Linked DNA regions of Homo sapiens. The protein of the gene in region 1 interacts with the protein of each later gene in a biochemical or structural test. Each region holds a gene or a part of one and is shown on either strand. Other genes may lie near its edges. The genes, in order: JAM3, PARD3 and TJP1.

The links.
Region 2: the proteins of JAM3 (region 1) and PARD3 form a complex in vitro, tested with the Homo sapiens proteins (2 studies listed by BioGRID and IntAct, with this or other methods).
Region 3: the proteins of JAM3 (region 1) and TJP1 form a complex in vitro, tested with the Homo sapiens proteins (2 studies listed by BioGRID and IntAct, with this or other methods).

The regions. Positions count from the first base shown.
Region 1 is NC_000011.10:134,071,994-134,075,739, reverse strand, and holds part of JAM3 (junctional adhesion molecule C isoform 1 precursor), read right to left. Parts: intron 1-3,746. UniProt on the Homo sapiens protein: Junctional adhesion protein that mediates heterotypic cell-cell interactions with its cognate receptor JAM2 to regulate different cellular processes. Plays a role in homing and mobilization of hematopoietic stem and progenitor cells within the bone marrow.
Region 2 is NC_000010.11:34,813,633-34,817,378, forward strand, and holds the start of PARD3 (partitioning defective 3 homolog), read right to left. Parts: upstream 1,665-3,746; 5' UTR 1,364-1,664; coding exon 1,244-1,363; intron 1-1,243. UniProt on the Homo sapiens protein: Adapter protein involved in asymmetrical cell division and cell polarization processes. Seems to play a central role in the formation of epithelial tight junctions. Targets the phosphatase PTEN to cell junctions.
Region 3 is NC_000015.10:29,821,005-29,824,750, forward strand, and holds the start of TJP1 (tight junction protein 1), read right to left. Parts: upstream 1,465-3,746; 5' UTR 1,025-1,464; coding exon 998-1,024; intron 476-997; exon of another isoform or gene 433-475; coding exon of another isoform or gene 412-432; intron 1-411. UniProt on the Homo sapiens protein: TJP1, TJP2, and TJP3 are closely related scaffolding proteins that link tight junction (TJ) transmembrane proteins such as claudins, junctional adhesion molecules, and occludin to the actin cytoskeleton.

The DNA.
Region 1 (3,746 bases):
GAAAAGAAATTCAGGGAGGGCATGGTGGTGTATGCCCATAATCTCAGCACTTTGGGAGGCTAAGGCAGTAGGATCCCTTAAACTCAGGAGTTCAAGATCAGACTGGGGAACATAGTAAGACCTTGTTTCTACAAAAAAATGTTCAAAAAATTACCCAGGTGAGGCTCCAGAGCCCGTGAAACAAATGTCTTATTTATGCCACCCTGTTTGTGGTATTCTGTCATAGAAGCCCAAGCTCACTAAGACCCCAGATAGAGCAATAAGCACAATGCTTATCACATAGTTTTCAGTAATTGGCAGGTGTTATTAATCATTATAACTCACTCATCCCAAAACAAAACATGTGCATTCCCAAGTCCATGCCTTTGCCCACATTATTTCCTCCACTTTCCCATCCACACCGCTGTCCCTCCCAAATCTATACTTAAGTCAGTCAATTATCTGTACAAGTCCAGCTCCTTTTTGAAATTCTCCTCTACCAGGTCAGCCCAGAGAGAGTAAGTGCTCTCACTTCTAAACCCACAGAATATTTACCCAAATGCTGCTCTGTTATTTGACTAAACTATATGTTCCCTCTGGTAAAGGGAAGACATTATCTTAAGTTCTCCTGCTTTGCCCATGGAATGCTTTACTGCCATGAAAATGGAGACTACCAAATAAATATGGATTGGCTGATTAAGTTTCAGTACCCTGACAGAGATGCTTTAAAGGAAAAACATGCCCCACCCCTGCCAAAAAAAAAAAAAAAAAAAGCAGCTGTCTTTGGATTTGTTGCATTGTCTCTAAGCTTCCAGGCAGCTGCACTTCATTCTAAAGACATTAAATATTTTCCTTAGAGAAAGACATCCAACAGGGAAGTCCATGTTGGGCAGGAAGAAGTGATGGGGCACATCAGCTGACAGAGTGCTTCGGGAAACATCTTTCAGAGTCTAGTTTCAACAGAAGTCAATTTCACCCTGTATTTTTATCACTCAAGAGGAAGAAAACAGAGATCTTCCAGGGGCTGCCACAGAGTAGGTGCTCAATAAATTTTGGCTCGCTTTGAACAGGTGAACAAAGGCCATTACTCAGATCGTTTTGTCAGTGTGTTCAAAAAGAAGGGGGGAGGCCGGTAATCTCGGCAGCTCTCAGTTTTCCAGCTAACCATTTGCTGAGGACACCACAGCTGACTCCCCCACCCAAAAGTCAGTGGCAACTAATCTCTCAAATGAGTCACAAACAATACATTATCAAGCAACTGAACTTCCAGTCAGCCACTCCTTCATCCAATGTGGCTGATATTAAGAAGCTAGAAAAAGGCACAATCCACATGCTATCACATTAAACAAACAAATTATATTTTCCCATTACTAGTGCCAAATTTAAAATTCCACTATTGTATCTACTGGAAGCCAAACCAAGATGCAACTTTTTTCATTACACAAAAAATATCCTCATCAAAGAACATTTGGAAAACAGACAAAGGAATACAAGAATCAACCAGGAAAACAAAAACAAAGAAAAGCAGAAAACAATTTGCTGTAACACTTCCACTCATAAACAGCCCCTATCAACAGTCTGGTTCATTCTCATCCTGTTTTTTCCCCTAAGCATAGATGTTTTGTGTAATCGTAATCATACAGTATATACTAGTATACCTGCAGCTTGTGTCACTTAAATGATATCATAAGCATTTCTCCATCTTTTTCTCCTTCTTAACCTTGTAACTGCACAAAAGCAGATGGCAGAAAGATTCTGAAATTAAACCAAGTCAATAAATTATTACCATTCTCTTTCTTCCAGAATAACTACTGTAGTACAAACTGACACTTTTCCAGAAGTTCCTAGGGCCACTAGAAATAAGACATTTTTTTAAAAATGCCTCGACACAAAGAGAGTGTTTAAGAAATGTTAACTCACTTTCAAGTGACAAAGTGAGATAAACTGAATATTTACTAGAATCACCTCTGGAAAGATACAAAAAAATTAAATTCAGCCTCTGTTACCAACAAAATGTTTATTATCATTGAGAAAATACAATGCACTGACACCTAACAACTAAAGCCCAATGTAAATCGGAGTCAATTACCCTGGCTCTTTAAGGACTGGCGATGTTTTACCCATTTTGCAACCCTAGCACACAGAACAGTGCCTGACACGTCATAGATACTCAATAAATGGGTGTTGTACTAAACTGAACTAGAGACTATGATCTAAGCTTATTTAGAGATAGGAAGGATCACTGTGGGCTGAGGTTGTCAAACATAGCAGATAGCATGACTATGGCAGAATTTGATTTTGGCAATAATTTTCAGGAAGAAGGCTGAACCATAGAAACCTTGGGAAACTGCAAATGAAAGATAATGTAAGAAAAAATGTTCATATAGTCCTAACTCTATTAAATAGTTTGATGTCTTTATACAAGCAGCACTGAAACCTCTGCTGTATGTATTAACTACTCATGGGAAATGTAATATATAACACATAACAAATACTACTTAAAACCAAAAGAAACACACCAACACAAAACACTACAGCATTCCTGGGACATCAGAAACAAGGGCTAACTCTCAGGAAGCTTTCTGTGTGCCATGCCAAGAAGCAGAGAGACAGTCAATTAAGGCTTTAGCTCTCCATATAGAGTACCACAGTGGATACTGTCCTTGCTAAACTAGGTGTAAAAGAATGTGCTTACCAAAACTTTCTTTCGGGATCGCTTTACACTCCAGTGAAGCTATTTGCATATACTGCTAGAATTCTGAGAGTACATGCAAAGATCTGAAATTTGCATTCAACTTTGACAGCATAACATTCACACCACCTGACTATAAACATCTTTTTTTTTCCCCCAAGACGGAGTTTCACTCTTGTACCCCAGGCAAGAGTGCAGTGGCGCAATCTCAGCTCACTGCAACCTCCACCTCCCGGGTTCAAGCGATTCTCCTGCCTCAGCCTCCAGAGTAGCTGGGACTACAGGCAAGCACCAGCACGCCCGGCTAATTTTTGTATTTTTAGTAGAGACAGGGCTTCATCATGTTGGCCAAGATGTTCTTGATCTCCTGATCTTGTGATCCGCCCACCTCGGCTTCCCAAAGTGCTGGCGTGAGCCACTGTACCCGGCCAACTATAAACATATCTTAAAAGAGAATCCAGCTGGGCGTGGTGGCTCACGCCTGTAATCTCAGCACTTTGGTAGGCCAAGGCGGGCAGGTCACTTGAGGTCAGGAGTTCAAGACCAGCCTGGCCAACATGGTGAAACCCCATGTCTACTAAAAACAATAAAAAAATTAGTCAGGCAAGGTGGCACGCATCTGTAATCTCAGCTACTCGGGAGGCTGAGGCAGGAGAATGGCTTTAACCTGGGAGGCGGAGTTTTGCAGTGAGTTTTGCAGTGAGCTGAGCTCATGCCACTGCATCAGAAACTCAGTCTCAAAAAAAAAAAAAAATCCAACTTCACCACTAGGGTATTCTTCAGCAGACTCCATACATCCTAACTTCATTCACACATATTTTCCTTTCTTTTACTACATTTGTGCTTTTAAAAAATTCAAAGAATTTATGGAGAAGGAATTTGCTAATACCACATCTCTAACAGCTGCTAGTCGAATGTACTAAATCCATAGCTGCGTCTGTTACATTATGTGGCCATCTTATACTTGAGGAAAGTCTGGTTGCTTTCAAAAGAACTGATTTAAACCCACCCCATGGAGTTTAAGAACAAGTTCCATGGAGCTTAGGGGTTGTGTGGATAATTCTGCCTGAATGTA
Region 2 (3,746 bases), on another chromosome or scaffold:
TTCCAATATATACTAAAAGCAAAACAAAAGTCTAAAAAGCTTTTACTTCTTAATTTCTGAGAGAACTGAAGATGCCACCGGAGTACCCTGTGTACGCTCAATAGGGCTGACCAAGCCACTTTCCAACGTCATTTGCAGCCCCCAAGCCCACAGGGGCCAGGCCACTGTCGGGAACAAATGGGAAATACTGCACCCAAACGAATGCGCTCCCCACCAAAGAGGACTCTACTACAAAGGAAATATATCCCCGGGTGCTTGGGAGAAACTTCAGCGTGGGCTGTTGTCAAACACAGACACAGTCGGTAAAACAATTTAACAAAACGCCTTTTCACTTCTGACACACAGTAGAGGAATGCTGTGAAGTGGAGACAATGTTATCAGTCCACCAGGAAAAAGGGAAATCCACTCAACTCCCAAGTCAGGCCCGGCCCCGCAGCCCAGCCACATGGAACCAGCCCGGGATAGGTAGGAGCTGAGGTCCTCGCAGGAAAACTTTTCATTCCGCGACTCTTCCAAGGTTGTGCTTTCCAGAGCCCAGCAAGTGGGATCAGCTCAGTAAATGCTCGCAAGCGAGTGCCAAGTGCCAGCGGTGGCCCTCCCGGGAACGCCTCCCCGACCCCAAGCCGGCGACTCCCCAAACCCTGCAGCCCCCGGACGCGACGGGCCGCCCCTGCCGGCCCCTACCAGCAGGGGACATGGAGGAAAAGCCCCCCGCCGCTGTTCCGCCCCCGCCCGAGTAAGGGAGAGGAGGCAGAAGGCTCGCAACCCGCCTCTGTCGGAAGGGCAGTCACGAAACTCTCCTCACACCAAAAGTTCCCAGTCCCCGGCCTGTGCCCCCGGGGCCTGGGAGCCGGGAAAGGCCTGGGGCTGGATTTCCCGGCCTGCGCCCCCCGCGCGCTGGCTCGGGGCTTGGCTGGGTCTGCAGACTCCGGGGAGGCGCCCAGGGCCGGCCTATGCGCCGCTGCCCGGCTCGCCCCGCGCTACCGAGGCCGGAGCTCCCGGGCGGAGGGTGAGGGCGGGGGCCGCGGGACCCGGCTGGGTGTCCCAGAGGCTGCGCCCCGGCCCGCGCAGAGAACTTTGGCGCCCGCAGTCCGGGGCGGGGGGCGCCCGCGAGGCCCGACCGGCCGCACTTTCCCTTTCCCCGCCTCCCTGCGCCTCTCCTCCCCCTTCCAGGAAGCGCCATATTGATCCCGGCGCCGTCCCCGCCGCCGCCCCCTCCCCGCCCGCGCCCCCGGCCCCTCACCTTGGCGATGGCCTTCCGGTAGCGGGTCACCGCCTGCTGGATGAGGCTGAAAACTTTCATGTGGCCGTCCCCGCACGGCACGACCACCCGGGTCCGTCCGAAGCACACGGTCACTTTCATGCCGCCGCCGCCGCGGGCGGGCCCGCGCCCCTCGCCGAGCGCAGCCGGAGCAGCCGAGGCCGGGACCGAGGACGCTGGGCGCGGAGGAGCCGCTGGGGACTCGGGCGCGCGGGCGGCTAGGGGCGCGGGCAGGCGGCGGCGACGCCGGGGGGCCGCTCAGCTCGCATGCCCGGCCCGGCCGCCCTCGCCTCGCCTCGCTTCGCCCGGGGCTTGCCTCGCCTCTCCCCGCCGCGGCGCCCGCAGCCTCCGGCCACCTGTTCGGCGTCGCGGCGCGCTCGCCGGCGGCTGCCCGGGGCTGTGTGGCGCTGGCGCTCGCTCGGGGCCGCTGGGGGAGGGGACGGCGGGAGGGGAGGGGAGGGGAGGGGAGGGGAGGGGGAGGAGCAGGGCAGGGCACACAACACCGCGCACATGCGGCAGGGGGAGGCGCGGCCGGCTACCCGCGCGGGGCGGAGCGCAGGACCGCAGCTCGCGCCCCCGCCACCGCCCTCGGGGGCCGACCTCCTTCCCTCCTTCCCTCCCTCCCTCCCTCCCTCCGGGGGCGCGGGACCCCTCGCCCCAGTGCCAGCACGGGCAGGCGGCCGTCTGCCCCCACCAGCCCTGGCCCAGGCGCCCCCCAGCCCCCTTCACCCCGCCCGCCCAGCACCCTGCAGGGCTGCGTCGCCCCTCCTCGGGGACGCCCCTTCCACGCCTCCAGAAGTCTCCACGGAGCCCCCCTTCCCCTTTCTTTGTCACTTTTAATCCCATTCCTCGAACTGGAGGGTTTTGGGTGCAGGCGCTCCCGGGGAAAGCAGTTTGTGCTCAGTGCGGTGAGTCCCCTCCTCACCGCCCCGGAGGCTCCAGCCCGAGCCTCTCCGCCCGCGGGGACTCGAGCCTGCAGCTTGCTCGGCTGGGTTTCTGCCCTGCCCGCTCCCTAGCTCTGCTGCAGGGCCGGCAGCGGCAGTTCTGCCTGAAACGCAAGAATTAATAGTCTGCTCTGGGGAGACAGTGGGGAAGCCGTGAGCGACCGGGCCTTTTCCAGAGGCCACTATTTACCTTGAAGTTTCCTGTTGACCCTCTGCTGACCCACCCGCTTAAATAGATTAGAACTTAAACATCGCAATTCTGATACATTTATTTCTTTGAAGTTCTGCAGCATAAGGAATCCTAACGCGAATCCGTGAACAGTCTATTCCGACGGCGCAGAGAAATCTCACGCGGGGATCCCCACGATGTGCCGGCGCTTAACGCAGACGCCCGAACCCAGGGGAAGGCTGCGACTCCGCGATGAGTGACATGCGGGCTTGAGACGTTCTAAAGGAACGTGGACCGAGTTAGGGAACGTAACTGAAGCTCATTTTGTCTTAGTTATGGACTATGAGTCCTTAATAAATGTATGTCATTATGTTTAAAGAATGACAAATGTCTGCAAAGAGTGGTCCCTGTCCCAAGCCCTTTCCAGACTATGTGAAATTCTTTTTTGCCAGTTGTTTCCAAGACACGTGAAAGCAATCAAGCTCCCCTGGGTTGGCGCAGAACTTGAGCACTTAAGAGCTGGAAGAGCTGGCGATCGACCATCCATCCCACTCCACCTCCAATCTTAAAACAAGGAAACAAGACACGAGGTTCGTCCGCTTGCCACACTCCCTGCGCTTTGCAGCACCGCAGCTGCCCCAGCATAGTGCAGTTTCTCCTAGGAAACATTGCCCTTCCTCTCCTCTCCCAGCCCTGGACCACCACTTTCCACCACCTGTCCCAGCAAATCAGTGCAGTGGTGTTAGCCCCATCTTACTCCAGGACATTGACCCAGGGCCAAAGTCACTTGCCCAAGGCGGCAGAGAAAGCTCAAGGCAGACCCAGAAATAGTCTAGGTTTCCCTCCTTCCACTCAGCCATGGGAAAGGCTCCTCCTACTGCTGTTTGGCTGCAGCACTAGACATTTCTAGCCAGTAATTAAGTTTGTGACAACGATGACAACAACTGTTGATGTGGGTTTTTTGCTTCTTACATAGATACTTGGATCCACAACAACAATTACTGATAATTATAGGTGTTGTTTCTGTTTTCATGCATTGGGAGAGTATACTACTAGTTTAGAATGTATACTACTTTATTTTATTTTGTGTTTTTTACATTTATTTATGTATTTATTTTTATTTATTTATTTATTTATTTATTTTGAGACCAAGTCTCGCTCTGTTGCGCAGGCTGGAGCGCAGTGGCGTGATTTCGGCTCAGTGCAACCTCCGCCTTCTGGATTCAAATGATTCTCCTGCCTCCGCCTCCCGAGTAGCTGGGATTATAGGTGCCCGCCACCACGCCCAGCTAATTATTGTATTTTCAGTTAGAGACAGGGTCTCACCATGCTGGCCAGGCTGGTCAATCCGCCCGCCTCAGCCTCCCAAAGT
Region 3 (3,746 bases), on another chromosome or scaffold:
ACCTGCCCAAGTATCTCGATACTATTTGAAGTAATGAATTGATATTCTTTAAAGGGGAGATTTTTTACTCCTCACATTTCTGTATTCCTTTGTTTGAAATAACAAGTACTATTTTATGATGAAAAAATTAATATACAAAATGGGAGGAGCATCCTAGCTGTTTTTCAGGAACTTTGGCTTTTTAATGTAATACACAAGTTAGTTTCAAAGCAATGGGAAAATGCAATAATATTTCAGAGCACATAGGAAAAGTAACAGGAAAAACGTTACTTTTTTCGGCTGAACTCACCGGCCTTTACTAATTTTTAAGTGCTCATCTTATTGTCCATTCGTAGGAATACTTTGTATTACTTGTGAAAGTTTAATTCAAGTTAAATTATTAAATGTTAAAGAGGTTATTTTCAAAGTTACCTTAAATAAGTAATACAGCATGAAAGAAAACCCGACCTACTACGCCTCACAGGCTGAGTGGAGTGTTTTGCAGTCTCAAAGCCTTATCGCTGGCGTGCGCATACCGCAGGGAGTGACATCAGATCGAAACTACAGGGTTTCGCCGGGGACCAACCACTCCTCCAAAGACAGCAGCTCCCGGCCAGCAGGAGGTGGCACCCCAAGCCCCGACCCGCTGAGAGCCGGCTTCCAGCCCCCGAACCCTCACTGGAGCCGAGTTTCTCCGCGAGGGACCTGTTGCGTGTCCCCGCCCTCAGCGAGCCGCAGCCAGGCACAGGCGCCGGCAGCTATGCACCTGCCCAGTACGGCGGCCGGGCGCCCGCAGCCCCCTCCCCGGCCGCCCCCAGTGCGGCCCGCGCCGCCCCCGCCCGAGGGGCTCCCCGCGGCCCGCGGCCCGCGGCCCGCGGCCCCGCGCCAGCCCTGCCCACCCCGCCGCCCCGGGGCCCAGACAGCCGCCAGCGAGGGAGGGCGGGACGCGGGCCAGATGCCGGTGGGCGGGCGGCGACGGTCGGCCCGGTCTGGCCCTGGCGGCCGCGGAGGCGCTCACCTTGGCGGCCGCAGCTCTGGCGGACATCTTGTCTCTCTCCAGCGCCGCGCGAGGCTCCTCGGACCCGAAACTCCGCGGCGCTGGCCCGCCCGCTCCTCACGCCACAGCCCAAATAAACATCTCCCGAGAGCGAGCGGGGCACGGGCGGGGGCGGCCGGAAGGGCCCGGCCCAGGGGGAGGGAATTCAACTCGGACAAAAGTCCGGGAAGCGCCCGCCCCGCCCGGGTCTTCTCCACGGGGCGCGCCCGACCGGCACCTCCCTCCGAGCGCGGCCACCCACTCGGCCTCCCGCAGCTTTCGCAGCCCGGCCACGTCGGCCTCGCCCGGTCGCCCGCCCGTCAGCAGCACCCGTGGCCTCCCGGCGTCTCCTCGGAAGCCGGCTTCGCCACGTAACTTCCCGGGAACCGGCGGCCGCCAAGGAACGCGGCGTCCGCTGGCTCAGCCGGCGCCGGCAACTCAGCGGCCACGCAAACCTGCCGGCCCGGCCCACTGAGCATGCCCGGCCCGGCGGGGGCGGGGCTGGACGAGGCGAGGCGAGGCGAGGCGGGGAGGGGGCGGGGCCGCGGCGGGGGAGGGGGCGGGACGAGCGGCCGGGGTCCCGACCCCAAGCGCGGAAGGAAAAGCCGGGTAACCCAAGTAACTTGGAAGACAGTTTCCGCTGCCGTGCGAGTCTTCCTGTTTGTTTTTATCCAAGGTCTGGCAGAATTCGCCCCCAAGGAGAAAGCGCCTGTGCACCAAAGCTTTCCTTAAGAGACTTGTCCACTTGCTCCTCGACAAGCCACGCACATCATGGGGTGAGCCCCATGCATGAGTGCGGCTGGAAAGGCCGGCAGAGCCGATACCCGACAGTTGTTTCCTTCACTGGGCAAACAGCATGGTCACGGCTGTCACCGCGTGCCTCGGCGTTGTTCCCACGGAAGGCGGAATGCATTTTCTGCAAGGCGCGTCATGGCTTTCATCTCCGAGGAGCTCCGGCAGGGTCAGAAGCGTTGCTCTCGTTCACCGGCGCCGACTGCCAAGGCTGAAACTGGTGATGAGGTCATGGGCACCCGGAGGCAGCAGCCTGAGAAACACCCTAGAGACCTGTGACATCTCGGCCCACACCCCACATTAGACCTCAAGATATATCCAAAGTCTCTTTCCCGCCCATCTAGACAGGAATCTTGAAAAGTTTATTTTTGGCCATCAAGATTGCTGAAATTCTTGTTGACCGAACGGGTCAAGCTGCCCTGCATTCCAATGCTGTCCCTCCAACTCAAAGTTGGGCAGAAAAGGGTGTAAACACGTGCAGTCCATGGTCCAGTTTAATCAGCCACTACACAAACTTCCCACAATGTTGACGGCTTTGCTAAACACCAAGGAACATGGTAAGAAACCAATCCTAGACTCACTAATCTACACTTGTAAATGTAAAGGTCTTCAAAAAATGCCAGAAATCCTTAGTAACATCAATGATAACATCTTTAAAGTATCTGGTATAGTGCCACAACCGGCACAGAAGAAATGGAAGAAATCATAAACATCAGGCTTTAGACAATGGTTTTCTCTTTAGAATTCAACTGTATGAAAAGAACAAATTTAACAAAGAAGTATGTGTAGGTGATACATAAGTATCAATTAAGGCTTCGAAGTGCCACACATCTTGCAACCCAAAGCTGTCTGAACCAGAAAAGAGCCTTCTGCAAACCAAACCCTTATTCCTTTTTGTTCTTCATAAAAATGGTTGAAGTCATTTTTGTTTTAAAGTCATGTTGTAATTGTTTTGCTTTTGGACAAAGTATTATTTATTCTTTTAAGAATTGTGGGCCAGGCGTGGTGGCTCACGCCTGTAATCCCAGCACTTTGGGAGGCCGAGGCGAGCGGATCACGAGGTCAGGAGTTTGAGACCAGCCTGGCCAATATGGTGAAACTCCGTCTTTATTAAAAATACAAAAATTAGCCTGGTGTGGCGCGTGCCTGTAGTCCCAGCTACTCGGGAGGCTGAGGCAGAAGAATCACTTGAACCCAGGAGGCGGAGGTTGCAGTGAGTCCAGATCGTGCCACTGTACTCCAGCCTGGGCAACCAGCAAGACTCTGTCTCAAAAAAAAAAAAAAAAAAAAAAAAAAAAAAAAAAAATGGTGGCCAGGCGTAGTTGCTCACGTTTATAATCCCAGCACTTGGGGCCGTGCGCAGTGGCTCAAGCCTGTAATCCCAGCACTTGAGAGGCCAAGGCAGGCAGATCACTTGAGGTCAGGAGTTCGAAACCAGCCTGGCCGACATGGTGAAACCCCATCTCTACTAAAAATAGGAAAGTAGCCGGGCATGGTGACAGACGCCAGTAATGCCAGCTATTCAGGAGGCTGAGGCAGGAGAATCGCTTGAACCCGAGAGGCGGAGGTTGCAATGAGCTGAGATCATGCCATTGCACTCCAGCCTGGGCAACAAGAGCGAAACTCCGTCTCAAATCATCATCATCATCATCATCATCATCATCATCATCCCAGCACTTTGGGAGGCCAAGACCAGAGGATTCTTTGAGGCCAGGAGTTTGAGACCAGCCTGGGAAACAGTGAGACCCCATTAAAAAAAAAAAATTGTGATTAAATTTCTTCATATGCAAACACCATTTAAAAAGGTTTGGGAAGTATTTTTTAATTTTAAAAGGTGGTGATGAAAGACCTTTCACATTATCTTTACCATTTAAGAAGATGTGCAATTGCATAAGCTGCCTAGAACTAGGTGTGGTGTCTTTAATAGCACCTAAATCTA